Linked DNA regions of Homo sapiens. The protein of the gene in region 3 purifies or fractionates together with the protein of the main gene of each other region. This does not show direct contact. Each region holds a gene or a part of one and is shown on either strand. Other genes may lie near its edges.

The links.
Region 1: the proteins of ITPRIP (region 3) and ADGRG5 purify together in Homo sapiens (co-immunoprecipitation; one large-scale study listed by IntAct). This does not show direct contact.
Region 2: the proteins of ITPRIP (region 3) and ZDHHC11 purify together in Homo sapiens (co-immunoprecipitation; one large-scale study listed by IntAct). This does not show direct contact.
Region 4: the proteins of ITPRIP (region 3) and SLC2A12 purify together in Homo sapiens (co-immunoprecipitation; one large-scale study listed by IntAct). This does not show direct contact.

The regions. Positions count from the first base shown.
Region 1 is NC_000016.10:57,560,682-57,568,046, reverse strand, and holds part of ADGRG5 (adhesion G-protein coupled receptor G5 isoform 1 precursor), read right to left. Parts: intron 5,992-7,365; coding exon of another isoform or gene 5,954-5,991; coding exon 5,890-5,953; intron 5,664-5,889; coding exon 5,588-5,663; intron 4,957-5,587; coding exon 4,800-4,956; intron 4,200-4,799; coding exon 4,068-4,199; intron 3,014-4,067; coding exon 2,897-3,013; intron 2,759-2,896; exon of another isoform or gene 1,449-2,758; coding exon 1,296-1,448; exon of another isoform or gene 578-1,295; coding exon 456-577; exon of another isoform or gene 198-455; intron 192-197; coding exon 1-191. UniProt on the Homo sapiens protein: Orphan adhesion G-protein coupled receptor (aGPCR). Ligand binding causes a conformation change that triggers signaling via guanine nucleotide-binding proteins (G proteins) and modulates the activity of downstream effectors, such as adenylate cyclase.
Region 2 is NC_000005.10:815,279-822,643, forward strand, and holds part of ZDHHC11 (palmitoyltransferase ZDHHC11), read right to left. Parts: intron 6,618-7,365; coding exon 6,583-6,617; intron 6,083-6,582; exon of another isoform or gene 5,865-6,082; intron 4,335-5,864; coding exon 4,247-4,334; intron 2,014-4,246; exon of another isoform or gene 1,049-2,013; intron 1-1,048. UniProt on the Homo sapiens protein: Endoplasmic reticulum-localized palmitoyltransferase that could catalyze the addition of palmitate onto various protein substrates and be involved in a variety of cellular processes.
Region 3 is NC_000010.11:104,309,723-104,316,220, forward strand, and holds part of ITPRIP (inositol 1,4,5-trisphosphate receptor-interacting protein precursor), read right to left. Parts: intron 6,343-6,498; coding exon of another isoform or gene 6,330-6,342; coding exon 4,686-6,329; 3' UTR 1-4,685. UniProt on the Homo sapiens protein: Enhances Ca(2+)-mediated inhibition of inositol 1,4,5-triphosphate receptor (ITPR) Ca(2+) release.
Region 4 is NC_000006.12:134,047,824-134,055,889, forward strand, and holds the start of SLC2A12 (solute carrier family 2, facilitated glucose transporter member 12), read right to left. Parts: upstream 4,802-8,066; 5' UTR 4,658-4,801; coding exon 4,555-4,657; intron 1-4,554. UniProt on the Homo sapiens protein: Insulin-independent facilitative glucose transporter.

The DNA.
Region 1 (7,365 bases), on a different chromosome or scaffold from region 3:
TGAAGCCCTCGATGGCCATCCAGGTGAGGCAGCTGAGCAGCGCGTAGTGCAGGGCAGCGGCCAGAGCCGTGCATGCTGACCCGGGCACAGGAGACATTGCGAATGCGGGGCTCAGCAGGAAGGCGATGTTCAGGAGCAGCACGGAGGCATGCAGGTTCATGTGGATGCGTGTTAAGGAGTCACTCTGCTTCCTGCAGGTGAGAGAATGGTCCTCCATGGCCCAGGGACATCACCCAGGCAGCACTACCCACTGGGTGCATAGGTGCATGCCGACAGGGAAACTGAGGCGAAGAAGGGGCAGGGATCCCACAGCAGTCGCACCACAAGGCTGGTCTCCCGCCTCCTGGTCCCCACCCTCTGGAGAAGCACACCCAGTTCTAGTGGACTAAATGGGACACAAGGAAGCGTGATGTGCCACAGTGCAGGGCAGGCCCAGCACTGTGGCAGCGGAATACCTGAAATGGAAGTGCAGCAGGACTGTGATCAGCGAGGCCACGATGGAGATGCTGCAGCCCACGAGGGAGATGTACGTAAGAGGTGCCAGCAACTCTGCAGGGACCAGGGCTGGGGAGAGTTGCTGCAGGAGGGAAGAGGGGCTGGAGGCCAGAAGCATAGTATCGCCCTTCCTCCCAGCCTCAGTCAGAGGGACCTCCTGAGGCCTCCTCTCCAAGTCCCCTTCCCCACAAGCCTAGCCATGGACCTGGCTTGAACAAGGCCATGGCAGATACAGTCAGTTTTGCCCCCTCCACATCTCCCATCTCCCTCTTCTTCTATGAGTGCCTCCCTTCTCCCACTCCCTATGCACCTGTGGGGTTCCACCACTTTGCCCTCTTTGTGCAGAAAGGGGTGCCAGGCCTGGTCAAGCAGGGCCCTCCCTCCTTCTGCCTATAGCGATTGGGTCAGGGATGAGCACATGGCTGGCAGAACTGGGTAAAAGAAGATTTTATTCCACTGGCCTGAAAGCTAGCAGGGCATGAGCCTGGAACTGCTGCCAGCTATATTATTATCTCATAAGGAGATCCTATTTGAGGGCTAAGCCAGCACAGAGCAAGCACAGTTGAGGGACAAAGATAGAGTGCTATCTTAGTGATCTTAGTGATCAGCCCGTGGATCAAGCCATGCCTGAAGCCTAACCCAGCCTTTCCAGAAACATGAGTCCATAAAGTTTTTTTTGTTTTTTGCTTAAGCCCATTTCAGTTGGACTTTCTGTCCCTTGCACCAGCTTTTGCCTTGCTCCTCTGCCACAGACACAGGGCCCTCTGTAGCTCTGAGCCCCACTCAGGATGCATACATACCATGAGAACAGCAAAGTAGGTGAGGTGGTTGCAGCGGCAGAGCACCTGAGAGTGGGAGGGCTGCTCTGTACGACAGCCCTCAGGGCTCCAGCCCCCCCAGGGCTGTTTCCTGGCTCCCTCCTTCCAGAAGACACAGGTCAGGGTGTAGCCTTCCTGGGTGGAGATGCTGGGTCAGTCATAGGGTGCAGAGGAAAGGCTGCAGATCAGTGTCTGGGAGTCCTGGGGGCCAACGGTGACTCAACTGCACATTTGCCAACATTTTACCAGGCACTGGCTGGCCTTTGGCTTCAGACAGTCTCAGATTCCTGTCCCACCTCCACTGTGGGCTCTCAGAGTGACCCAGGCAAGACACCAAGTTGCTCTGAGCCTCAGTTTAGTCATCTACAGAATAGGATCATTCGTACCCATGTTACAACAATGGTGGAAAAACAAAGGGCAACACGGAATCTTGAGTGTCCAGCTCTGGCCTTTTATACAGTAGGCGCTCCATAACCAGCTGATCCCTTCCCTTCCTCCCCATGGGGAACAGCAATGTGCTCAGACCCACGCCTGGTTGGGGGAGACTCATCCACAGACAACCCTAATGCCAAGCCACGTGGGTGGAGAAGTGGAGGAAATGACACAGGTAGTCACGGAAGACCATGGAGGGTAGGCAGAGCTGACCCAAAGGGAGAAGGGGAGGTGGGGGCCCTGAACCCTTAGAGGACGTGTTGGATTTCAACACGAGTAGGGCAAGGGCATTCCAGGTGGAGGGAACCATAGTGGCAAAAGCCCAGAGCTGAAAGGAAAGGATGATGGTGAAATTTAGAGTGCAGGGCAGTCCTGGTGAAGCTGAAGGGAAGATGAAGCCAGAAAGCAGAGGCTCCGGGCTTTTCAGGAATGCCAGGAACCAGAAATGGAGGCACTGAGGCTTGTGAACCACCCCACTCTGCCCCCACCCCCAACAAGCAGCCCTGTCTCTGTTCCAGGATCAGCATCTGCACTTACCCTAGGAGCTCACTCCTTCACCCCAGTCCCTGGGCCGTGTGACCCAGGCCTGGCCAATCCACACATTCCATCCCCCTGGGCACAGTGACAGGTGCAGGGATGGACATGTGTGACCCAGCTGAACCTTTAAGATCCTGAGACCCTGATCTGCACTGGGGCAGGTTGTGGGTGGGGAGTCGGGGGAAGAGCCTGATGGGAAGAGGGAAAGGAAGTCTGGCTCTCCAGCATCCATCATGCCACAGAATGGACAGCCAAGACAGGAGACCATTGCTGAGACGGAGAGAGACTGAGCCACAAGGGCATCAGATCCATCCCTGGATCCAGCTATGTCTGAAGCTGGTGGATCACCTCTAGACATTTCATGGATGTGTGCCAATCAGTTCCCTCTGTGCTCAAGCTGGCTTGAAGTGGTCTTTTCTTACTTGCAACTGAAAGAATTCTGACAAATGCATGAGTAAAAACTTCTCTCTCTCTTATTTCTTGAGCAGGAATTTTCAAAGTGTGATGGATTTCCAAGATGGTTCCACAGGTTTGGGTCTAGTCAAACCAGTGTTCAACAGGAGAGTCACAGAGGGGCAGGGGTGCAGTGGAAACGGGGGCGCCCCCAGCAGTACCAGGCTTTGGTTGTGCCAGAAGCTGATGTTCACAGGATCCCTGAGGTTGTTCACGTGCCCATGACTCAGCTGGGCCCCCAGGACGTAGTTATTCAGCAGAGATGAGTTGTTTTCATCCTGGAAGGGCAGCAGGAGAAGGGCTGAGTGGAGGGGAAATGGGGAGGCCCTGGGTAAGGTCTGAGCTCCGCTTCCCTGGATGAGAACAAGCAGCAAGACTTTCACGTGTGCAGCGTGAAAGCTTTCTCAGCCTCCCAGCCTCCCAGCCTTCCCAGCCTCCCAGCCTTTGCATGTGCTGTTTCTGCCCTGTGGAAAGCTGTCCTCTCACCACCCCCTGCTCCACCTCCCATTCGTTTAATGCATTCCAGCCTCACGCCCTCCACCTCACCACTATCCTCACTCACTTTCAAAGCCAAGGTTGAAAGGCACCTTCCCCAGAAACTCCCCTGGACTGCCCACTGGGAAGAGCCCCAACCCCACCCTGACTCATCCATCACTCTGGATCTCTATGGCTATAATCAACCTTCTGCTGACATTAAATCTCTAAGATCAGGCCAGGCTCAGTGGCTCACGCCTATAATCCTAGCATTTTGGGAGGCCAAGGCAGGCGGATCACTTGAGGCCAGGAGTTCAAGATCAGCCTGGCCAACGTGGTTAAACCCGGTCTCTACTAAAAATACGAAAATTAGCTGGGCATGATGGCACACGCCTGTAATCCCAGGAGGCTGAGGCAGGGGAATTGCTTGAACCCAGGAGGCAGAGGTTGCAGTGAGCCGAGATCATGCCACTGCACTCCAGCCTGGGCAACAGAGCGAGACTCTGCCAAAAAAAAAAAAAAAAATCTGTAAGGTCTTAGTCTAGGCATCAAGACAGAGAGTTATCTGAGGGCAGGGAATAATAAGTGCCTTCTTGTCTGTCTCCCGCCTACCGACAGGCACATCGTAGGTTTCTTAGGTCTTATTTGCAGATTGTAATTATACCTTCCTACCATTCTGCTAAAGTTGGCAGGGAAACTGAGGCCCAGAGAGGGACAATTGCTGGCTTGGATTGCACAGATGGCTGGTTGGTCTCACTCAGTGCTGGTCACCCAGAGGCCAGGCAGTGACATGGGCACCTGCAGTGGATCCCAAGAAGGGGCCGGCACCCACCCTCCTTGGCCCGCCATCACACTGACCTTGAAAAAGTGGGTGTTGGAGAAGTAGATACAGATGAGCCGCAGCTCCCTGGGGCGGGTCTTGCAGGCGTCCCGGGTCAGCTCGGCGGGGAACTGCATGGCGTGCTGACCCCGGGCATGCTGACCTCCTGCCTGCAGAGGGTCGCAAACAGGCTGTTTGGCAACCAGGACCTGGAGACCTGACCCCAACACCTTCACTGCCTCCCACTCCCCGTGAAACCTTCCTTGGGGTTTCCACCCACAGAACCTTCTCCCCCCAGGCTGCATCTCCTCCCAAACTTCCCAAGATCCCAGGCCTTCCCTCCATGCTGTTCCTGAGTTTTGGATGTTTACCTGACCCACTGAACCCCTGAAGATGGAGCTACCTCAGCACCCAGCCCCAGCACCAGCCCCAGCCCCTGCCAGGGATCCAGCTGATCACCCCAGGGTCCTAAAAGGAGCCAGGGTTTCTGGCCTCTCCCACAGCGCCTCCCGCAGCGGGCAGCCTCCAGCCAAAGCAGGAAGAAGATTCTGCCCTGCAGGGGCAATAAAGCACCTCCCTTTCCACAGTTCACACAGCGAGTATGAGCCCCATTTTACAGAGGAGGCAACTCACTGCCAGTTAGGGCAGAGCCTGGACTGTGGGGTGTGGGGAGGAAGACAGTGGAGCCTAAAGAAAGTCCAGACCTTAAATGCCTGGAGGACTTCTAGGGCGGGGCAGCTGGCCACACCCCCCAACCCGCAGCCTCTGACCTGGGGCACCCGCTTCAGAGTGGCACTGGTCAGCGAGAGGCCAGAGAAGTCACAGCTCAGCTTGAAGGCCAGAGACTGGATGGTGGGTGTCTGCAAGGTCAGGTTGTAGCCTGGGAAGCTGGTGTTCAGTAGCATCTGCTCCAGCTGGTGGAGTTGACTGCAGCCCAGAGAGATGGCCAGGGAGGCCAGAGCCCGGAGTGGGGTAAGGGTGAGAGGGGGCTGTAGACAGCCTGGGAGGGCAGGGCCTCCCCACCCACACCTCTGTCACACGCACCTCCAGACCACTGCACACACAGTGTCCTTGGCACACTGTTACCTCCCTACCCCATCTATCCCCTCCTCTTGATTAACTCCTGTTCAGGTCCCAGTTTATTGTCACCTCCTCCAGGAAGCCTTCCCTGACTGCTCCCTCACAGCTTCCCAGTAGCCACTCTTAGCCCTGACCAGTCTTCAGCATTGGCCGCTCACCTAGAGCTGCTCAGTCTTTGGGTCATAGACCCTGGAGAGCCCAGCCAGAATCTTAGACCCCCTTCCCAGGAAAATGCATGGAGACCCATAATTCTGCACTTAGTGTCATGACATCTATGATTAAGGGCCCCCATTCCTCGATGATAAACTTCATGAGGGCAGTGACATGCCCATCCTGCATCCCCAGAGCCTAGTGTCAGGCATGCAGTAGGTGCTCAATAAAAGTGCTGAAGAAATGCACAGTTAAGAGTCTACATTAGACTAACCCTGACCCACTGATTCAAGGTGCAGGCTTGGGGTGGGAGGCACATCCAACTCACCGAGAGGAAAAAACTGAGCTCCGGCCCCTGGACACCTGCATATTCTCCATGTAGCTCAGGAGTTCTTCCCATGTCTCTGTGGGGACACACCTCCCCCTCAGTTTGTGTCTCAACTGCCCTCTGGCCCCACAACCTCTGGGCTTTCCATCCCACCCTGAGAGTCTAGTTCACAAGCAGCTCCTGCTGCCCCCAGGAAGCCTAAGTGGCCCTTTTCAATCTCCCATGGTTTGACGCCTCCCCCTTTTGCATCACAGTCCCACGACTGGGCTAGGGCTGCCCCCAGTTCAGCAGAGCCCCCTTACCTGTTGTTGCATTCTGCAAAGTCAGAAGGCACAGGCACAGGAAAAGGGCACCACAGTGATCCATGCCCTGTGCAGAGTCTCCTCCAAGAACTGGCTCCGGCCCTGAAAAAGGTGCATGCCATCACCATGATGATAAAAGAGCAACCTCTAACTTCTAGGTGTCTGGCATGTCCCAAGAGTAGGACATGCAGCATCTTATTTGACTCACCACTCCTGCATTTCACAGATGAGGAAGCTGAGGATGAAGGGCAAAGGGTCTTGCTTTACTTAAACCTGCCTAAAGCCAGGTCTCTAAGACTCCAGAATCCTTGACCACCAAGTAATGGCTGCCATTAGCAGCTCCGCCTGATACACTCCCCTTCCCAAAAAGCAGTCTTTCTGGGGGCTTCCCCAGGATCCCAGTCTCTACCCAGGGGGACGGTGTTTGGGAGAAAGCAACAGGTAAACCCCATCCAGCCCTGCCATTAACTCATCGTGCGGCTTTGGGTAGGATCTGTCTCTCCTCTGCCCTCATTTTCCTCCATTTTAAAATGAACTAATAAACTTCTGCTTCAATAGAGCAAATTTATGTCTGCCCCTTAAAGCCCCACTAAAATGAGAGGGAATGAATAAAATAGGCACAAAGCCACAGAACAATGGGAAAGAAAAGAGGCATGAAAAACAGTACAATGGGGAAGAAAGGAGGCACAAAGCCTCTCAGGAAGCTGCTGGAGGATGTGCTCCAACAAAATGAGAGAGTAAATCATGAAAGAAGACACAGGGTACAGGAAACCCTGTACCCTACCATGGGAGAGGTAAAGCTACTCCTTAGAAAACAGGCACAAAGACAGAACAATGGGAAAGAAAACAACTGCAGAGATGGGAGATGTCAGCTAAATTTTGGAGGCTACAAGTAGGTGGCACCTGGTAAGACGTTTAGCAGACCAAAAAAAGTTGAACCCAAGTGCCTGCAGTGGGGAGAGGTGTGGTGTTGGCAGGAGACAAGGAGAAGCCTCACAACCTTGGAAGCACTTGAGAACTGGGGGCATCAGTAACCTCTGAAGAGGGGATGAAGGAAGAGGCTAAAAACAGCGATTGTTGGCCAGGCATGGCGGCTCATGCCTGTGATCCCAACTCTTTGGGAGGCCAAGGCAGGAGGATCGCTTGAGACCAGGAGTTCCAGACCAGCCTGGGCAACATGGCAAAACCCTGATTCTACAAAAAGAAAACAAAAATTAGCTGGGTATGGTGGCCTGCACTTGTGTCTCCAGCTACTCAGGTGGGTGAGGTGGATCCTGCCCAGGAGATGGAGGCTGCAGTGAGTCAAAATCATACCACTGCACTCCAGCCTGGGCAACAGAATGAGACCTTGTCTCAAAAAAATAAAAAATAAAAATAAAAACAGAGTTTGTTGGTTGTGAGTCTTTAAAATGCCCAACTCAGTCCCCAGATCTCCCCTGCCACCTCCAGTATTCAGGAGTTTCCTCACCATCCTAC
Region 2 (7,365 bases), on a different chromosome or scaffold from region 3:
ATATGTGAGAAAATACATTTCTTGTTCCAACACCCCATGTGTGGTTCCTGCTTGTGGAAGCTCTAGCAAAGAAAAACACCTGCTATGTGTGCACACACGTTGTTCTCAGTGCTCTTGGTTAAGAACCTGGGAGTGGGAGTGCTGGCTCATATGATAAGTACATGCTCAGCATCTGAAGCTTTGCCAAACTGCTCGCCAATGTGGCATCATCTTTCATCCCCATGAGCAATACATGAGACTTCCAGTTCTCCGATGTCTTCACCAACACTTGGTATTGTTCATCTTCTTTTTAATTATATTTTTTAGAGACAGAGTCTTGCTTTCATTGCTCTTGGGTAAGAATCTGGGGGTGAGAGTGTTGGGTCATATCATAAGTACCTACTCAGCATCAGAAGCTTTGCCAAACTGCTTGGCGATGTGGCATCATCTTTCATCCCCATCAGCAATGGATGAGACTTCCAATTCTCCCACATATTCACCAACACTTGGTATTGTTCATCTTTTTAAAAATTAATTTTTTTAAAGATAGGTTGCCCAGGCTGGTCTCAAACTCCTAGCCTCCAACCATCCTTCTGCCTCCTTGGACTCCCAAAGTGCTGGGATTTCAGGCATGAGCCACTGTGCCTGGCTTATCTTGTTGATCATTTTTATTGTAGCCTTTCTAACATGGGTGCCATGCTATCTTATTGTGGTTTTAGCTCGTGGATCCCAGGTGGGAAATGATGTTGAGCAGCTTTTCATGTGCTTTGTCGTTCATATTATTGCCTTGTGGAAGTTTTGTGTTCAAATCTTTTGCCCATTTGAAAACAGAGTTTTCTTATTGCTGAGTTTTGAAAATTCTTTAAATATTCTGGATACAAGTATATGACTTGAAAATATTTTATTTCAGTCTGTGGCTTATATTTTCATTCTCTTAATGGTGTCAATTGAAGGGAAATTTTTAAATGCTTAAAGTCACATTTATTCTTCTTTTTTCGGAAATAATGTTTTTGGGATCTATCAAAGAAGACATTGCTTAACAGAAGATCACAAAGATATTCTCTGGAGGGAGACTCAGAGGCGGACAGATGGCGGCAGCAGCTGCACGGGCGGGAGGGGGGCGGTAGCGCAGGCGGTGGTGGGGTTGGCGGGGGTTCCAGCTGCGGGACAGGCAGTGGCCGTAGCGGCATGTGGATAAGTCGAAGATAAGTGATATGCCTGGAAAAACGGACAAGTGGGATGGATCAGCTGTGAAAAACTCTGGATGATTCTGCCAAAAAGATACTTCTGGAAAAATACAAATACGTGGAGAATTTTTGTCTAATTGACGGTCACCTCACCATCTGTACAATCTCCTGTTGCTTTGCCATAGTGGCTGTGATTTGGGATTATATGCATCCCTTTCCAGAGTCCAAGCCCGTTTTGGCTTTGTGATGATGGGAATTCTGACTATTTAGACCTCATCTAAGGAGAAGACCATCTTTCTCGTGGCCCACAGAAAAGAGCCTACAGGAGTGGATTCTGATGCTATTTGGGAGCTGCCCTCCAGTCTTAAAAGGTTTGATGGCAGATACACCCTGAAGCTGACCTTCATCAGCAGGAGAACAAAGCAGCAGCGGGAAGCCAAGTTCACCAAGTCTATGGCTGAATTTTTCTGACCCCAGTGGGAGACTGGTCATGGATGCATGAGCCTGAAATGTCCAGGCTCCCTGACACTCTCCCCATGGGAAGAAACATCAAATAGCCCTCTTTCTGCTGGATCTTGCTGAATTACTGCCCTGGGGGGTAGGGGAGATAAAAATAACTTAAAATGGGTAAAGTAAGAACTGTTAAAAAGTCCATGTTTTGTCCTGAAATTTTACTCTATTCTGGATACATAGGATTTTCTGACACAGATATGAGAAGTTGTAGCTCTGAGGTCAAGCTGTGGCCACCTCGGTATGCTGTTTGCATTATTTTAATTTGCTTTTCTGCAAAAGCATTTTTGCTAAAAGCTGTACAGACTTTTCCCTTTGTACTTATCAATACTTTATACTATAGCTTTGTGCCATGCAGCATTTTAAGATTCAATTTTAAAAAATTATTAATGTGTTGCTGTCTCTATCAATTCATATTTCCATATGTGTTTCCTTGAAGAATTCAGGACACAACTCCTTCCGTATGACAGCTTTCCTTCACACACTATTTTTGTGGGTATGTATATATCTCACTTGGGGAAAACTTTAAAAACACACTTGAAAAAACATAGCTTTTTAATTTGTTTGAAACAGACCTTCTGCCTGTTACGTTTTGTGCTCTTAACCAATTTAAGAGGACAACTGTATATTTAGTATTAAAAAAACATATTCTGTGAGTTTTCTAGGGAGGTTAAACTTTCCTCTCTAAATATGAGGTCTCTGATGGATTGTGCACTGCTTTCTAGGTGGGACTGAGCTGTGTGTGTGTGTTTGGCATGTGGTTATGCAGCTGCTGCAGCACACTCATTACACACCCTTCCATGTCTCCCCATTGCCTCACCTTGGCACCTTCCATTTAAGCCAAACACCAGAAATATAAAGAAGGGCTTGTTTCTGGAGTTTCCAGTTTGTTCCATTCATCGAGTCAGGGTGTCTTCTATGGACAACGCTGTCTGCAGCCCTGGGCCCTCTCGAAGGGGAGGCGATGGACTGTAGGTCTGTGGAGCTCAGCACAGGGCTGTGCCACGGACGCGGGTGTCAGTGAAGTCACGTGCATTTTCAGATGGAATTCTCCTCCCCGATGTGAACAATGAACCGACGGTGTTATTTTCATAGGATTGTCCTGGAGCCCACGGAGACGCGGGCTTGGGATCCAACGTGATGCTGAGCGGATCTTCTCTGCTTCAGACCAGGCCTCATGTGGCTTCACACAAGGGTGACTGTAAATCGTCATCTACACCGAGATGCTGCAGAGAGACCGAGGGGACTCACAATTGCACCCCGGCAGCAGGTGTGCATGTGGACGATTGCAGGCAGAGAAAATCCTGTGAGCCTGTGTGCCACATGGAGTGAGGGAACGTTGGTGGGTGAGTCTGGGCGGGGCAGGCTGGGGGCCCAATCGGTTTCCACTGAGTGTCTCCATATCTTTGCTGGAAGTGCAGGGAAGGGGCAAGGCTTGGACGCCAGCGTCGCTGTTCCTCCAGGCTGGCTGATCCCTTTTCATTTCCAAGTCTCAAGAGCCTGTTCCCTGAAGTCCTGGGGAAGTGTGGTGAGGCGGCCCTGCCCCAACAGGGAAGGAGAAGACACCTGTAACCTCCAGAAGCTGGCCGCCTCACAAAGCCTTCTCAGATGGATTCCCCCACAGCCTAGTACAGTGGCTCATGCCTGTAATCGCCCTGCTATGGGAGGCTGAGGCCAGAGGCTTGCTTGAGACCAGAAGTTCCAAACCAGCACGGGCAACAGAGTGAGACCCCATCTCTTAAGAAATAAGAAATAAATTGGCTGGGTGTGGTGGCACACGCCTGTAGTTTCAGCTACTCGGGAGGCTGAGGTGGGAAGATCGCTTGAGCCCAGGAGGTGGAGGCTGCAGTGAGCCATTATCCCACCACTATAATCCATGCTGGGTGACAGAGTGAGATCCCATCTCCAAAAAATAAATAACAACCCAGTAGAAACCGCTGGAAGCTGACCCCAGAGCAGGAACAGAAATATGTGGCCCTAAAGCCGGTAGCCACACAGGGCTTTTCCCGTGAAGGACGGACACAGAGTCCATGTATCCATGTAACAAACACACACCATTCACACACATATACATGACCACACACCACACACAAAACCACACCAACACATACGTGCACATGTGACCACAAACACATCTCTATTCCCATCTGTCTCCTACACACAGTCTTTCCTAAGCATTTTATTTTAAAACCACAGCACACAGCTTCTGCCATGGCTACCAATTTCCCTCCATCCTTTATCACGGCACTGTCCCTCACTGCATGTTCTGGGCACTTCAGAGCCTGCCCTGGGCATCTGCCCATCACCGCAGCCTGATGGTGGCACTGCAGTGCTGAGGGCTCCCACTTTGGTACCCGTCTGTCTCTCTCACCCACAGCTGGGAAGCATTCCTGCCTCTCACTCCATCTCTCTTCTGTGCTCCACCCACCATCATTCCCATGTGAGCAGCACCCTTGGACACAGAGTGCTTCCCTTTTGAATACTACCTTAACCTCAGCTTGGGGGACCTCAGACCACACATTCTGCACATGGCCCTGTCCTCGGGGACAGCGCCAGTGATTGCAACTTACCTGTGCCATCGAGCCCCCGTCTGGGTGTACACGAGTGGAGAACTGACACAGGCGCCTGCAAATCAGCCGGGAGTTCCTGGCCTTGGCTCTGGTGGGGCAAACAGAAGGAAAGAAACACACCACAGTTTTGTAGGGCGCTCAGGATGGCACTGGAGGCTACAGTGTGTCCTGTAAGCACCACTGCAGTGGGGCCCATGTGTCTCAGAAACTGGAGACCAGCAGCTCCCGGGAGGTTGTGTGAGTGCTCCCGGGTTACTGCACAGTGGGAAACAGAAGGAGCTTCTCGTGTAAAGGACCAGGACTCCTTCCCACTTGGATTCTGTAAAGCAGTACCTCCCTGAAGTCTGCGAGCCCCACCCTAGACCAGTGCCTTAGACAGGTAGTGTCCTCCGTTAGTGTAGCTGGTCTACACTGGGCTACAAGGTGACTGTAATTTTATAAAACAGCACATCATACATGTCACAGGGGTGTCAGGTGGGTCAGGTGACCTTCATTTTTACCTGGAAATCCTTGCCATTCCCTAATTTTCTACAACATATACATGTCGATTTGGCAATCATTACACAACTTTAGTTTTTCCTTTTGTTTTGGTTTTAGAGAGAAAGTTTGTAATTCCGGTTATAGTTACATTTCTATTAATCTTGCCCAAAATGCATCACAGAGAAAGCATTTTTGTATTTTACTTAAAAGACCATAGTTACATGATAGTTTGAAGTGATATTCAAGTGCTTCGGATCTACACAGTAGTTTTGCCAATTACCCTTCTAAGAAAAGCAATTTCATAGAAGACTTAATGGGTCGTTTGAAAGGGAATGAACTTTTCCCAGTAAGCCATACACCTTGACTGCTGAACTAAGCAAAAGTCTGCATGAATTCTCTGCAGTTGTGATCATTACCAACAGGGCCTTGTCCTGATCTAAGAAGCCCTTTGCCCTCTGGCTGTGGAGTAAGGGATGGTGACATTTCCAGGGACACAGGCCCTGTCTCTTCTGCCCAGGAAGCTGTGGGCTGAGCCCCTGCCGGTGTCTGTGAGGGGTGGGGCTGGTGCACACCTGGGGAAGGGGGGCTGCACTCCACTTTCTGGCCATGGTGGAGACTCTGACTTCCAGGACCTTTGCTGCCTCTCTGTGGGGGCTGTGATGTGGTCCCCTCCCAATGGAAAGTGTGTAACTAATGTAACTGGAACTTGAATTTCATGTGTCTAGGAACTGGACAAAGTCATCTGAAAGCTCATATGGAAAAATAAATGTGTAAGAATTGTCAAAAGTAAATGAAAAATGAAAAAATCTTTAGAGGCTTATTTGCCTGCAGGATATTAAAATATAGTAGCTAAATAAGGTTCTGTAATTTAAACAGATGATGCACCTCCAGGACACAGACCCATGAGACAGACACAGACCTGGGCCTGTGTTTAGGGAAACACAGTGAACCAGAAAAGGGGCCTTTCAATTTGATGGGGAAAGGTGCAATATTTAATACATGAGGTGAAAACCAACAGTTACTTCGTTGGGATAAAATAACCTTATCTCTTAACTCCCTGAATACAACAATAAATCCCAACTGGCCTGAAAAATCAAAATGTAAAGGAAGCAAATGGAAATATGAATAACGTCTTTACCCTCCTCCAGCCCCTTGGCTCTCTGCTGCTCCCCCCGGGGCAGGAGAAGAAGGAAGAGGGCCAGGGGTCCCCTGCCCACACTCTCCATGATGACAGAGATGGGAAGGTAGCCAGGCAGCAACAGTGTACGGCGACATTGGAGCGACCTCACGGCGACCTCAATTTCCACTGCGCCTCCTCCCAGAGCCTAAGAAGCTGCAGGCCTGTGGTGCCCAGCACTGAAACAAGGAGATGGCGGCTCAGCCAAGCCATTTAGGATGGAAACTGCAAAGATTCAATATTCAGGACTGCTTCTTTGCTGCTGAAGGGGTGTGAACTACCCTTCTCTTCTCCACTACACAACACAACTGTTTTGGGAAGCATCAAGTGAAAGCGTGCAGGGCTCACGGCAGACAGGAGACAGGGCTGATGTGCAGCTCCCACCAGGACAGAGAACAGCATGTGGACACTCATACTGTGGACTTTTGCTGCAGGAACCACCAAGGAGCGTACCAGGAAAAAAACAAATCACAGAGCCTTTAAAAGAAGCCGCAGGCTGCTGTGATTCCACAGGACAGGTGACAGTTTTGCTGCTCTCTCGAAAGTGCCACCTCCTGGCACTTCAGGATATTTGAAGACATTAAATGGATGACATATTTTCCTAAGTAATTCGAGATGAGACGAGTGTATAACTATGTTACTAATAGATAAAATAATCCCATTAAACTTACAAACTCACCCAAGTGCAGATGGACACGGGTCTTCATCCCCTTCCTGTGGGGAAGTGAAGCAAAATTCATAGAATGAATTGACATTGAACTTATTCTTAAAAAAAATTCAAGTCCATTTCTAGTCAGTTCTGACAGTCACTTCTGAGTAATGGTACATCAAGGTTGCCTGGATCATGGAATAGGATCTCAGTGGTGACACAGCACACTTCCTCCCAATCCTTGTATTATGGGCTGAACTATATCCTCCTCCAAATTCATAGGTTGACATCCTGACACCCAGTACCTCAGAATGTGACTATATGTGGAGACAGGGTCTTGAAAGAGGTAATGGATGTTAGATGAGGCTATTAGAGTGAGCCCTAATCCAGAGTGACTGGTGTCCTTTTATGAAGGGGAGATTATAACAAAGACACAGACAGAGGGAAGACTGTGAGAGGACACAGAGAACAGGTGGCCATCTACAAGGCAAGGAGAGAGGCCTTGGGAGAAACCAACCCTGCAGACACCGTGCTCTGGGACTTCCAGCCTGCAGATATGTGAGAAAATACATTTCTTGTTGCAACACCCCATCCATGGTTCCTGCTTGTGGAAGCTCTAGCAAAGAAAAACACCTGCTATGTGTGCACACACATGTTGTTCTCAGTGCTCTTGGGTAAGAACCTGGGAGTGGGAGTGCTGGCTCATATGATAAGTACATGCTCAGCATCTGAAGCTTTGCCAAACTGCTCGCCAATGTGGCATCATCTTTCATCCCCATGAGCAATGGATGAGACTTCCAGTTCTCCAAACTC
Region 3 (6,498 bases):
AAAAGGACTAAAAGGATGCATATATATATACATACATGTGACACATACACAGAAAAATTTTGGAAGGATACACCAAAAACTTCATATTGGTTATCTCTGGGGAGTGGACTAAGAAGTCAGAAGTGGGACCGTTAGTCTGTTACTTAATTTTCCTGTTAGTACTTGAATTTTAAAATTATGACTGTATTATTGCTTTTATGTTTATTTTTTAAACAACAAACTAGTTAAACAAGCAAGCTATTTTTGGATGGCAATGAGAAAAGTTAACTCTAAAAGATGCCCTTCCCAGGGACAGGGGTGGGGCAAGGCAGAGTGGGGCGGAGAGGGAGGGCCCTGTTGAAGGCACACATTGCCCTTCACTCTGTGACTCTTGGCTCCCTCTGCTTTCGGTCGCTGGCCAAACCAAACAGCCTTCCAGCTCTGTCCCGTGAGGTGGAGATGAGACGGACCACGAAAATGTTCTGAATCACAGCCTTGGGGTGGCTTGAGTTAAGACTTCCTGGACATTCACCAACCACTGCCAGCTGCCACCAACCCTGCTCGGGAAGCCGGCCATGTACCCTACAGCACAGGACATGGATGGCACTGATCACATAGATAAGGACTCCTTAGTTTGGGGGTGAATCAAGTTACTGTCTCACTCAAAACCCGCCAATGGCCCACCTCTGCTTGTTGTGAGGTCCAAATTTACCTTGTATTAGCATTCAAGGCTTTGCATGGTTCAGCCCCACTCTTATCTTTTCAACCTCATTTGCTACGACTTCTCAGTATATGCCAACATGTACACCAGGACTGCCTGGGTTGGAATCTGGGCTGTGCTACTTACCACTGTGACAGTAGGTAAGTCAGTTGCCCCTTCAGTGCCTGTTTCCTTATCTGGAAAGCAGGGAGGATAAGAATAGCACCTACATCATAGGACTGACATGGAACTGTGTGCATTAACAAATGTGTGTGCGGAACGGTGCCTGCCATACAGTAGGTGCTTCCCACCCTCACTCCATGCTTCTGGCTGGAATGTCTTTCCTGGCCACAGTCCTGGTCATTTTTCAGAGTCTCTATCTGGCAGCGCCCCACCATGAGGCCTTCCCTAATCAGCCCAGGTACCAGTGGTTCTTGGACATCCAGAATCAGGTGGGGAACTTGGTGAAGTGCAGATTCTTCTACCTAACTTCTCAGGATCCCACTGGAGTCTGTGACACGGCCCAGGAAGCTGCCCCCAGGTGACACCCGTATGTGTAGTGCAGGGTCACACTTGGAATAGCTCAGTACTTGGAAGGCCACCTTCTGCTGCCTCTCCTAGGGAACAGGCTTGGTCCTATTCATTTTCCCATCTTCCACAATGTCTCATGCACGTTAGGCTCCTGACAAATGCTTGTGGACTATTCATGACCTGCTTGGGAGAAGGGCTCACCATCTTATGCCTTCCCACCCTCTCTCTGAGGCTTACGGCACTAGCGTGAATGTGGGTGCCCTCATGAGAAGCTTGTGGTGTAGCTGATGCCACTTAGACCACAGATTCCAAGCAGGCTCATTGGCTTTTCCCAGGTCTATCTATCTTCCAATAGATCTGTAGGGAAAGTAGTCCACTTGGGTTTTCTTTAACTTTCCATTAAGAAAGAAAGTGAGAGGGCTTCCTCAGCTAGGGGTACCATCAGTCACTTGGGGGAAATCTTTAAAAATCGAGCCTAGCCTGACCACTCCAGACTGGATTCTGAGCACCATGTAGGTTCAAGGCGGGGTCGGGGCAATGGACCAGGTTGTCTGGGTGATTCGGATGACACCCTTGATGATGAACCAGAGCTCCACCCCCAGGTTCTCAACGGGGGCTGTGCTTCAGCCAGGCATGCAGAGGGGCTAGAGCTTTTGAGGATATAAGGCCCTTCCCCAACATAACCAGCCTCTTGGCCTAGGGGCCAACTCTATTCATTTCACCCTTGTTATTTTGCAAAGCAAGTGAGCAGTTGCTGGGGAAAGTCAAGCATCCTTGGGAAAGAGACTCTGGGGAAAGAGGGCAGGGTTGTCCTTAGTGGAAAGGCCAAAGTCCCCTAGAGGACTCAAAATCCTCTATTTAAAATACAATCTCTTTCTTTAAAACCCAAAAGCTTCCTGTTAGTTCCAGCTCCTATATTTCTCGCTGACATTAGCTCTGTGAAATAAGGTCTTAGGCTGGAATCCACCCTACAGCCAGCTTTCAAAGGCCCTTTCTGGAGCCCTGCGGGCAGCACACAAGTTGCCTCAAAGACAGGGTAGAAATGTTCTGTTTTGTTATTTTTTAAAGTCTCCTGAAAGTGTAAGAATAAAAAGGGAGTGAAAGCTTCTGCTTTGTCAATAGGAAATCCACCCCCCTGTCCCCAACTCTGCCCTGGGAGCCTCACAGATTTCCTGAAGTTAAAAACAAACAGTGACCATTTCTACTCCTTGCAAGATTTAATTCTTCCTTTAATATAAATAAGGCAGCATGAAACACCAAGAGCCCCACTGCTTTCTGCTTTAGAAGCAGCTTTGGTGCAGAAAAGATTCCCGTTTCCCCACCGAGTTCTGTTGTCTCTGTACACACAAGAAGCCAGAAGATATTTTTTTTTCAGTGAACTTTCTCCTGGAAGCAAAGGAGAAGCTATGGGAGATCCAGGCATGGTTTTGGCTTCTGGAGGCTGTTTTTTGGTTACTGGGGTCTCTTCAAAGCAAAACGGGATCAGGATGAAGAGGGGGAAAGGCATGGGCCATAAATAAATAAGGAAATTTGCCCCGATTCTACAAATGCATCTGATGGAATGAGGAGGGTCAGGCTGTGAGGGATTGGGGGTAGCTCCAGGCTGCTGTTAGGGACACACTTGAGCTGGTTCATTCCCTGGAGTGCCCCGCAACTGCGTCTAGGGAGAGGCAGGCCCAAGCACATGTTCAGTCTAATTCCAGCTCACACTGGAAGGCTTCCTATAGGTTTGGTTGCCCTGATCACAGCCGAGCTGCCCCACCAGGAATTAACCCTGGTGGGCAAAGGGTCCATCTTCTCAAGCTTTCTGAGGCTGGTTGAGAGCACTCCTGGGGATGGGGGAAGGATCTCCTTCCTTCAGTTTGTGGGGTAACTGGGCACCCCTGTCAAGTTGGTTATGCTCTCGGGAAGGCATGGCCGGCTTAAACCCTGGAGGAACACGGTATATTCTTGACTCCCTGGCCCCCTGCAAGGGTAACTGAAGTAACGGTGAGATAGGAAATCTCAAAGGGCCAGTGAAGCCACAGGTGGAAAAGAGCCTTCCTGATCCCCCTGAACCAGACCTGGAGACGGAGCCCAGCTCCAACCACAGAGCTTCTGCCAGGCTCTTTGGGTCTGGGTCATCTGTGTGGTCAGCAGTGCCCACACAGAAGGGGTGGGTTCTGTGCAGTGAGGGAGCCCCGCTGGAGTGAGGAACTAGGGGCTCAGAGCCTGCAGACTGGAGCTAGGTTTCCATAGTTCTTGCTTCCATGCACACCCTGCCCTAGGATTGGGACCCTGAGGACAACCTGGGGCTATGACATCCTTGGCCCCTGATCTCTGCAACTTTCTCTGAACTGGGCCAGACTGCAAGCCAGACACCACCACCCCGGGTAGCATTTTTGAGCACCTCATCGAAGGAGTCTACTGTCTTACAGCAGAGACTTCGCTGCAGGACGCAGGGCCAGAAGAGGTTGAGAGGCTTGGCTCTGCGCACAGCCTCTGGGAGTGCCATGGCCTCAGGTGCCTTGTGGTTGCCAATGAAGAAGTGATAGAGTTTCTTTTCCAGCTGTCCTTTGCCACAGTCACCCCGTGTGTCTCTTTCTCCAGGTCAGCTTCCACCTTTAGCATCTGTCCTCCCCCTACCACAATGATAGTCAGAAAGACCAGCTTTGGAGAGAATAAAGAGAGGTGGGGGGCTGCTGAGCTGGCACCCAGTGTGGCAAATACCCACCACGCTCGGGACCCAGTACGTTGGGGAAAGGACAGCAGAAGGGGGTGCACCTGAGTGAGAAGTGTAGGGTGCAGCTGAGTGAGAAGTGTAGCTGAAAAAGTGGCTAATTGTGTTTCTCTATGCCACCAAGTACCCATTTCCGTGTGACAGAGACGTTAGTCATTTGGGCCTCGAATTTATACAAGGTCTTTTCTCCAAATAGTATAAAAAAGTGGCAGCCATGGTGGGACCACTATTGTGCAGGATGCGGATCAAAGGTGGACATTCCCATATCTGTCCCTGTTAGTGCTTTGGCTGCAGATGGTCAGGCCAGAAGCTCCTGGGAATAGGGGTGCTGGGTCTTAACACGGTTCCCTGTCAGCATTCTTGTAGATCCTCTGCTCATATTCAAGTACAGACTGGATCTGGGATTCAAAAAGAATTACACCCAATCCAACATTTGCATTGTCTCTAACTCAGGGTCCACAGCGTGTTCTGCCACCATCTTGGCCATTCATGGTGATCCAGAAGTAAACTGCAAGGGATCAGTCCCTAAACCCAAATAACAGCTTTACCAGCAGATCCCAATGGTATGAAGCAAACCAGCTTCCCGTTGAAATTCTGTTTCCTCTGCACTGTAGGGCTTGGCTTCCTGGCAGGCTGAGCACGGCTCCCACGAAAGCCCGCCTTGTCCCCAGAACAGGGCTGGCAGATGCCACCAGGGGTGTGAACGTGAGGGATGCCCTCATCTTAGCTCGAGGATCCCACATTCTGTAAAAGACGTCAGCTTTTTGGGGTAGGCTGGTCTGAGGGGACATGTAGGGAATACTCGCTAATGAGCGCTGGGGCATTCTTGAGCATCTCATAGAAGGAGTCCAGTGTCTTACGGTAAAGGCTTCGCTGCAGGACGAAGGGCCGGAAGAGGTTGAGGGGCTCGGCCCTGAGCACGGCCTCAGGGAGTCCCATGGCCTCAGGCACCTTGCGGTTGCCGATGAAGAAGTGGTGGAGCTTCTTCTGGAGCAAGCTCTTCTCCAGGAAGCACAGCAACTCGTGCAGACGAGCGTCCAGCTGCCCCGCCTTCCAGTCGGCGGCCTGCCGGAGGAGTAGGAGGTGCAGTAGGGCCGTCTTCAGGTGGTAGCTGCTGAGCCCGCTGGGACCGGTCAGGCGGCTCTGCTTGGAGAGCAGGAAGGATGCTATCTGCAGGCAGCTGAGGTGGCAGGCGCCCTCGGGCAGTGCCTTTAGTGTCGTCCTGAGGAAGTGTCGCTCATAGACAGCAAAGGACAGGAGCCAGTCTGTGCTGGAGGCTGGGGTGCCCTCAGAGGGCTCCCTGGGAAGGTGGGAGACAAAGTACAGGTCCGAGTCATCACACTGGATCACAGGAATCAGGTTGAAGGGCATGAACTTCCCTGAACGGAACTTGATCTTCAGGGACCCCGGGCTGTCCAGCTGGCCAAAGGCCAGGTCGAACTCGTACTTGTGGGCGATGCCCTTCCAGGCTCTGGTGAGGGCCGTCTGGAACCACTTCATGACCTGCATCGTGTCCAGGTACAGGGAATCTGTGGCACACAGCAGGTTCTCCATGTCGCCGCAGGGAGGCGCCATGCTGTTCCTGCCGTGCAGGAGACACAGCATGTCTTCCCCGAGCTTGGTCTTGCCGCAGATGCAGCTCAATGTGTCCCCATCGGCGCGGACCACCTTGATCTGGCCGTAGCCCTGGCGATCCAGGGGCACTGAGCGGCCGGAGCACCAGAGCTCTGGGTGGAAGCGGTAGGGCTCGGGGGGTGTGAAGGGCACGAAAAGGTGGCACAGCAGTGGCCTGTCCACCTGCCAGTTCTCGTACATGCTGTCCACGCCAATGAAGTCCTCCACCTCCATGTCGGTGTCCCGGTTGCAGAGGCTCCTCAGGGCTTCCAGCAAGTCATCCACGAAGCCTTCCAGGAACTCCCGGGTACGGGCTGCATCGGCCGTGGCCCCCCGGATGCAGCGCTCATAAAAGTGGCCAAGCGTGGCCTTGTTGGGCAGGGTGAGGCCCTGCAAGGGGGCGCCCCCCAGCCCAGGCAGCTCATCCTCCTCACCGCCCAGGCACTCAGGTGAGGGCCCCTCCTGGTGGTCCTGCCGCCACACCTCGATCATCAGGAAGAGGATCATGCAGAGGGTGCTCCAGAGGTCCCAGGCCACGCGTGTCTCGTTCTGCTGCCTGCCCTCCTCCGCCACCTGCTCCAGTGCCTCCTTTTCGGCCGCCAGCCGAGCCACCTCCTCCTCCAGGCGCAACTGCTCCAGCTGCAGCTTCTCCTGGTGCGCCTGCATCTTGCGGATGATCTCCTCCTCGTTCTCGGGGACTGTGGCGTTCTCCCGCGGGAACAGCAGCGGGTGGTTGATGATGGCCGTCACCACCACCAGACACACGCGGAAGAGCCCCATGGCCATGGTTGGAGCTTTCCTGGGAACAGAGAGACAGATGGTCACACCAAGCTTCCCTCAATGCCACTTCGTCCCTGGGCCCCGCACCAACCTCAGCCCCTCAGGGCTGGTTAAGGTCTTAGTTCTCCCACCCAACCCATCGAGAGCTCCCTGCGGCTGCCTCAGGAGCTTCAGT
Region 4 (8,066 bases), on a different chromosome or scaffold from region 3:
CTAATCTCAGCCTGCTCAGATGGGCCCAACCTCTTGGCCGGCTGCTCTCAGGCTGGCTTGGTCTGGCTCTGCCAGGCCCTGGCAGGGCAGGCTTCCTGCAGCGTGTGTCTGCTGCTGCTTCAGAGCCTGGGAGGGGGTCTGTGGCAACCTCTCTGCTCTCTCTGGGTGACACATCCTTAGAGAGGAGCAAGACCACTGCCGCGTACGATGCATAGCACCCAGAGTTTGCAGAGAAACATCTCCCACCATGTTCGCAGCCTTTTCCCTTCCCAAGAGATCCCAGAGGAGCCATTTGCCCAGTGCTCACAGTGGTGAAAAGCCTCAAATCTAGACTTTTGATGTGATTTCCAAGTGAGGTTAAATGTACAGTCACAGAGATACGCTGACTGGACTGAAAGGGGAGATATTTATGTTTAAATCTGGTCTCATGACCACACAGAAGAGCAAGTGGTCCTCCATAAATGAACACGTCTAAAAATCCTGTCATTTCCAGCCAGGCACTGTGGATCACACCCGTAATCCCAGCAGTTTGGGAGGCCAAGGTAGGCGGATCACCTGAGGTTAGGAGTTGGAGACCAGCCTGGCCAGCATGGTAAAACCCCATCTCTACTAAAAATACAAAAATTAGCCAGCTGCTCAGGATGCTGAGGCACAAAAATCACTTGAAACTGGGAGGCAGAGGTTGCAGTGAGCCAAGATCGCGCCATCTTACTCCAGCCTAGGTGACAGAGCGAGACTTCATCTCAGAAAAAACAAAACAACAACAACAAAAAAACCTGTTATTTCCTTGGAAATACGTATCACAGTAGACACAATCATTGTTATCAGATGTTGACTTGTTAAATACATATGTTTTTAAAGCACTATAATTTTTGTCACGGGTTTTGATGCTTAATTGTTTTTAATATATAGAAAGTGTGGAAAAATGGGAATGGCCCAGCATCAAAAACTCTGAGATGCCTGGGTCTGCCCAAGGTAACTGGCCTCTTACTAGAATCTGTCTTCTCACAACCAAAGCTCTGACATCTGCCCAAGCTGGTTGGCCTGACTCCCTCTTCCCTAAGGATGAGTTTGTTTCCAAGTCTCCGTCTCTTTTACAAGTTGACTTCCCCTAGAGCTGACTGACGAAGCCTGAGAAAGCCAGGCCTGACGAAATTCCAGGGGGCCCATTTTAAGCTAAACCCGGGAGAACAGCACTCAGTAGGAACTTAGTTACAGTTACATCTTACATACTCACCACCTGCCCAGCTTCCATTTAGGAAAAAGGAGTTCACAGCTTTAAAAGCGTTTTGAGAACAACTGCCTTAGAATGTTCATCTGCTGAGCAGAAGCGTGTATTTCTTAAATTCCAGACTGTGGCATCTTCAGAGGGGATAAAGGACAGTCCTTTCAGCTGAGTTCGTGAGTCCCGTTCTTCATGTTCTGGGTCCCAGTGCCAGAGAGTTCTGCAGTGCTGACAACCTGCACTCATACAGTAAATATTGTTCTTGTTTTCTGAACCTTTGGACAGTTGGGGGTGAAGGGAAACTTAAGAGGACTCTGTCCCCAGCCAATTGTTTGGATCATGAAATAAAGGAAGCCTGGGAGCTGAAGTAGAAGTCAGTATTGAATCTCCTGGGCCAGAGGCCACCAGGGTCAGTTCTGCACCATCCTCTGTGTGACCGTGGGCCGATCACACATCTTTTGACCTCAGATTTCCCTTGTGTGAGTTGCTCCATCCGTCTAATATCTCACTTCATTTATATCTGTTGTCAACTCTAGGCACCAGAATTTCAAACTGAGCTTAATCCTGTCCTATATTAAGATGGATTGGAACATGTCCATGAAAGCTGAAAAAATTTACTAAAAATGTAACCACTTTGAGTCATAGCTTATTGAAAATGAATTAAGTTCATTAGCTTCTAGTCATTGGAACAAAGCATTCTTTTCAGTTAAAGAGGGTTAGTCAAGAAAGACCTACCAAAATTTTTCACTGTGCACAATAGCATCAAGGGAGTTCAACTGCAGACCTTAGGGGGTTGGTTTTGTTTTGTTTTTCAGTATCTCACATGATTTAATTACCTTGTCCTGAGTTATATAACTCATTCCTCTTTGTGCTTTGATTTTTCCATCTAGGAATGTAGAAAAGCTTGCTACCTTCAAATGCAGACATATTGTGATAATTGTTGAGCATAATTTAAATACTCTGAATGTCTTAAATGAAAACTATGGAAGTTGAAAATATGAAGAAGCCAAAAGGAGTATTTGACAAATATTACCTCATTAAATCTCAACACCTTCATAAAATAGATGAAGATACAATCCCAATATTAATGAATGGAGACTTTAAGTAACTTAAGAAAACCATACAGCAAGTCTGCACTATGCATTCATTTATACATATGTATGTATAATTGCTTTTGGGTGCCAAAAGATGTTTAAGATAAGTTAAGAAAATTTACAAAAGTAGAAAATAAAAGGTTTGCATTCATCTAAATGCAGATTATGTATAGCACAAATCAAAGTTGTATTCATCTGACATTTTAAGGAAACATTCAGGCTTTCTCTTCTACAAAATGAAAGTTAATTTAAAATTAAATTTGAAAGATAATTTATGGTACTTATTCATTTATTATTTCTTTACAACATAAACAGTTGCACTTTAAGTTGAATTTTGTGCATGTAACCAACTATTGCAAATGTAAATACACATTATCTTTCTTCTGGATAATTGTGAATTTGTACAATATAAGCTATTAAGAGCACATTGTACCTTCAAAGCCATATCAAAATAAACAGTCCATTTTTAATGGTTACTACAAAGGCTCTTCCTAGGCAGTTTCTTTTCATCTTCTTTGTGACATTATCACTGACTGTATTTAGTGAGCCCTTTTGTTAACATCACCACCTCAGCTTGCTCTGCAGTCTAGACTGCAGCTCATGTTCCCAGGAATTTGGAGAAAAGAACTTTGCAACTCTTTCCCTTTATCTCCAAATATAAGTTTCCCTTGCCTGCTCTTAGGGAACTTGTGGGCCAATGAGTAGCAAGCGCTTAGGGAAAAGGGTACTTCTGCATAGGAGAGGACAGGCCATATTGAAAGATGACCCCAGATATTCTTTTATTATTATTATTATTATTATGTTAGACAGAGTTTCACTCTGTCACCCAGGCTGGAGTGCAGTGTCATGATCTCAGCTCACTGTAACCTCCAAGTGATTCTTGTACCTCAGCCTCCTGAGTAGCTGAGATTACAGGCATGTGCCACTATGCTCAGCTAATTTTTTTATTTTTCTGTATTTTTAGTAGAGATAGGGTTTCCGCTCTGTTGGCCAGGCTTGTCTTGAACTCCTGGCCTCAAGTGATCTGCCCACCTTGGCCTCCCAAAGTGCTGAGATTACAGGCATGAGCCACCACGCCCGGCCTCATTCTTGACGAGAAGTGTGAAAGCAAGAGAAGAGATCAGGACATGGAAGATGGAGGGCTTCTCCACTCCTGAAGAGGGCCGCTTCATGCCTCGATGTTAGGGGTCACAGGTTCGATTCCCCAAGATCAGACAAACCCACAAGGCAAACGTCAGTATTAGGACCATTCCCAAGAGAAAGGCAGATGTCTTTTGTATCATTTAGTGTATTGGATTTTGCATGAAATTTCTATATGCTGCTTGGGAATGTAATATCTGATTAAGAATACACAGCTGAGGAAAGTAGTAGGAAAGAGAAGATTTTTTGTGTTTGTTGTCATTTCATATTACAATTACTTTCTATTCCTTGCAGCACAAACTAAATGAGCAGGAAGAGGCAGCAAAAAGCGTACAATGTATTTGTGGGAATTGTAAATGTGGAAGTGAAGACCAGCCTCTGATTTATCAAAGATCATTAAATGAATTAAAACTTTTCCAAATTTCACCTTCAGAAGGTCATCATAGCAAACAAACCTCAGTTTGCAAGGCCAGTTTTAAAGAAGGCAGAACCCAGCAAAGCAAGCGTTTCAGGCTCTGAATAACGCTCAAATTCATCACAAACGTGCTGGGAATTTAAAAAGGAAGTTTGTGTTCTCATTGATTACATAACTAATAATTTTATGAAGCCTGTTTAAAATACTGATTTTTAAAACAGTGGTTATAATGTCAACTGGTTACACAGTGTCCATTTGTGACAATAAATGAAAAAGTGTAAGCAAGCGTGTGCTTGTGTGTGTTTACAAATGAGACTATCTTTGCCAGTGGACCGTTCCAATATGAAAAACATCCATACATTGTATTATGTAAACACAATCAAGGGGACCCATCATACCAGTGGTGGATGTGTAACCTGTATTTTCTTGGCACATAAGGTTCCACCAAGACTTCGATCTTCACAACATTACAGCTCCGAGCTGTCCCACGTCCCACCAGACCCTGTCCCCTTCTCTCCACTCATCCAGCGCGCCCACATGCGCGCGCGCGCATACACACACACACACACACACACACACACACACACACACACACACACGGGACTCAAGAGACAGTACACTCGGGAGATGAGTACAGCTTGCTTCTCTGCGGTCACCCGAGCACTGCAGGCTCACTTTACCTCTCGCCCAGGGAGGATGCCGGCTGCCGCTGCCCTCCGTCTCCACGGCTGTCCCCTTCTGGTTCAGCAGACTGGGGCCCTCGGTGTTTTCAACAGGTACCATGGTCACGTAGAAGTTACAGCCGCTTCCCCGCCACCAAACCGCCCCGACCACCCCCGCTCCCAGGAGTGGTCACTTTCCCCATAATAGCATGCTAAAGAAGAGTGTGGGGAAAAACTTCGGGCAAAGCTAATGTGATTTGTGACCAACTTTGTTTCTATTTCCGAAGGCTTTGCCCTTTTCGGTGACACAGGCTGTTGCTATTCCAAGCAGCCTATCACAGGCAGGGGGAGGGCCGTGAGTCAGAGGATTGTTTTTGCCTTTAGATGCAGAGTTGGAAGCAAGGGGTTAAAAGAAAGGGAACTCAGACGGAGTGTTTGGCCATTAGCTAAGGGTAGCTCTTGTATTCTAGCACCTTTGAAAAGAGGCAGAGAAAGGAAACATGCAGATTTAAATGCAAGCTGAGAGTGGGGATAGAATACTCACAGATGGTATCAGTTAATCTTGCAGAAAGAGGAACAATTTATGCAAAGACATACCAGAAGGAAAAGTGTGTCAATTTTTCAGCAAGACTGTTATTCCAAAAGTCATGGTATTTACCAGCTTACACAAAGCATAAAATACCTTTATTGTTTCAACCTGATTTTGGTCTAGGTAAAGGCCTATATCTTTCTCTCCAAGGCCTTTCAGATAAATCACAGCCTGAGACCAAAAATACACAAACTCAGAATGCACAGATTCTTTAGACTTTTTATATGCTGAGGTTATAGCAAAGTAATCCATTTCTTAATGCAGAATTGTCTTTAAGAGACAAATTAACACTGAATCCTCTGTTAGGTTTCATGTTTGCGTAGGTAGGAGGAGGATACTCCTCACTCAGAGAGGCCAGACTAAGTGGCCCATTGTGTGCGTGTGGTGGACATGTAATCTCAAACAAAATCAGGTCATGAGAGAGGATCTTTTTCTGATTTGTGAACATATTTATAAAAAAGTCTTACAGGGTTATGACATTTTACCTTCAGTTATTCATTCAACAAATCATGTTTATTAAAAAAAAAAGCCTTATAGAGGAAATTGAGATCATCTTAAAAATCATTTGGAATAAAAACTAACATGTGTGGAGCACTTATGTGCCAGAAATTGTGCTAAGCGCAATAACGCAGATGATGACTTTGAGGCAGGTACCAACATTATAGAAGAGGAAATGGAGGTTGGGTAACTTGGCTACAGTCTCACAGCTAATCAGTGGTAGAGCTGAGATTATGAATCCAGGAGGTCTAAAGCTGTAACTCTCCTATATTCTAACTTCCCAGCCTTGTCCTTCTCTAATTTTCTTGGCTTCCTATGGTTTCAGACCTACTCGACTTTAAGAAGATGCCGTGAAATATGGCTTTTAGTCATAGGCATTTCTCTGGACAGAAAAACAAATTTGTGCTTGTATAAGCAGAAGCTAAATTTTTGTTACTTCTTTTCAACATTTTAACTGAATCACTTCAAAGTTCTAAATTCACTTATTTGTACATTTCCTTTGCTTGTCATTAAATAATTCTATATTTTTCTTATCTTTCAGGGAAACAGGTAGCAAATGGAAACAAACCTATAATAATTCAACTAGTCTTTATTATGTACCCGTTGTATGTCTGCTGATAGTGCTAGAAAATGGAAGTCCTCCAGGCATAATCCAGGCCCCTTATGATTAAGAGGGTGAGAAGTTCAGAATCCCACACATCAGTGTCCCCACTAAAGAATGTGTAACGCAACCATGGTTTGAAACAACTCATTTTATTTGTTCCCAGGGTGCATTATAATTATATAGGAGTCCCAGTTTCTATCTGTGAGACACATATGTTTCCCATAAGTTCTCTATATTCTCTTGGCTTCTAACTTCTTTCTGCTCAGAACCAATGACCTCATTAGGGGGAAAATGTTCTTGCAATGGGTTAGTTGTATCATTGCTTTGTTTCGTGATCCCACAACCTGTGTTTCTAGCAGCTTCTTGGCCCCATGGGAGTGTTAGAGTGTTTGCTATAGTGCTTGACTAGACAGAAGACAAAACTAATTCCAGAATACTTTACTATGGTTAAAAGCAGTTCAACAGTTCTCACTCTGTTTTGTGTAGCCAAACCATACAGGAGATCCACAGGCATAGTAAGCCAACCAGGAGTCAAAAAGAATGCTCAGCAATGCAACTGACAACATCACCTCCTGGTGCTCCTAATTCTGTTCTTTATTCTGCTGGTGACCTGACCGGGGCCACTGGCTATCTCAAGCTCTGTTTGTACTTACCTCAATCTCTTAACTCAGAGAAAAGTTTAGGGGAGAAAATTTTTTTCACCCAGACTAGAGGGGGGAAACTCTGCCTCAATTCTGTTACGAACCCTGTACTTCTCCTTCCCAGCCTTTTGCACACCATAATGTATTTAATACAGTTAAATGCGGTGATTCAATTAAATCTGCCTTTTCTGCTAGATTGCAAACTCTATGAGAGTATGGACTATGTTTGTTTAGTTTATTATAGTATTCTGCGTGTCTGGCACTCAGCAAATACTCAGTAAGTATTTGCTGGCTGACAGACTGATCCCTGTAAATCCAATAAACTTTAGCAACACTAGAATGTATGCTCCAAGAGGGCAGGCACCTATTTCTATCTTGCACATTCGTCCAGCTCCTAACACAATGCCAGGCATGCAGTAGACACTTAATAAATATTTGTTAGATAAATGAGTGCTCACAAATAGAGCTTTTAGTGACTAAATAACTATTTAGTTTTTAAATATTAAAATCCATATGATGATTGCCTATGACATTTTGTCCTTCCTCTCTGTTTCTGCCAATTCCTTTAGACCAAGTATAACCACAGGCTATCCATCTTCCCTGGAGTTTGAGCCACTTCCATTATTAAAATCTGTTCCTCCACTCAAGGAATTCATAATCAGCAGACAGCAGACAGTTCATTCTTCATAACCCCAATAATTTTGCTACATACCACTTTGGACCACTGCTCATAGGCAATGCTACCAAATCCAAAAACACCTATCCTGACTTATAAACTGGCACAGCGGGGAAGAGGGGATGAAAGACAAGCAGCTTCACAGGGCTCGTAAACATCTACCATAGAGCATGCCTATTTTCATGGCAATTTTTTAAAAGCTTCACAAAAACCTTGTGAAGTAAATACCGTTACTTCCATTTTGCAGAAACTGAAACCGAGAAGTTTATGAAACATTTCTAAGATCAAAACATTTTCCAATGTTGAATTATAAAAATTTGAATCCCACAGGAAAACCTACACTCGACATTTTACCATGCTTGCTCATTCACATCTATATATAACAATTCTTCCATCCATCAGTCGATCCGTATTAGTTTTTATACATATCAAAGTAAGTTGAAATACTTCAGAATGCATATTATTAAATAGAGTTCAATACTAGGTTCTTTTTTTCAAGACAAAAAAGCTCCAGAAGCAACC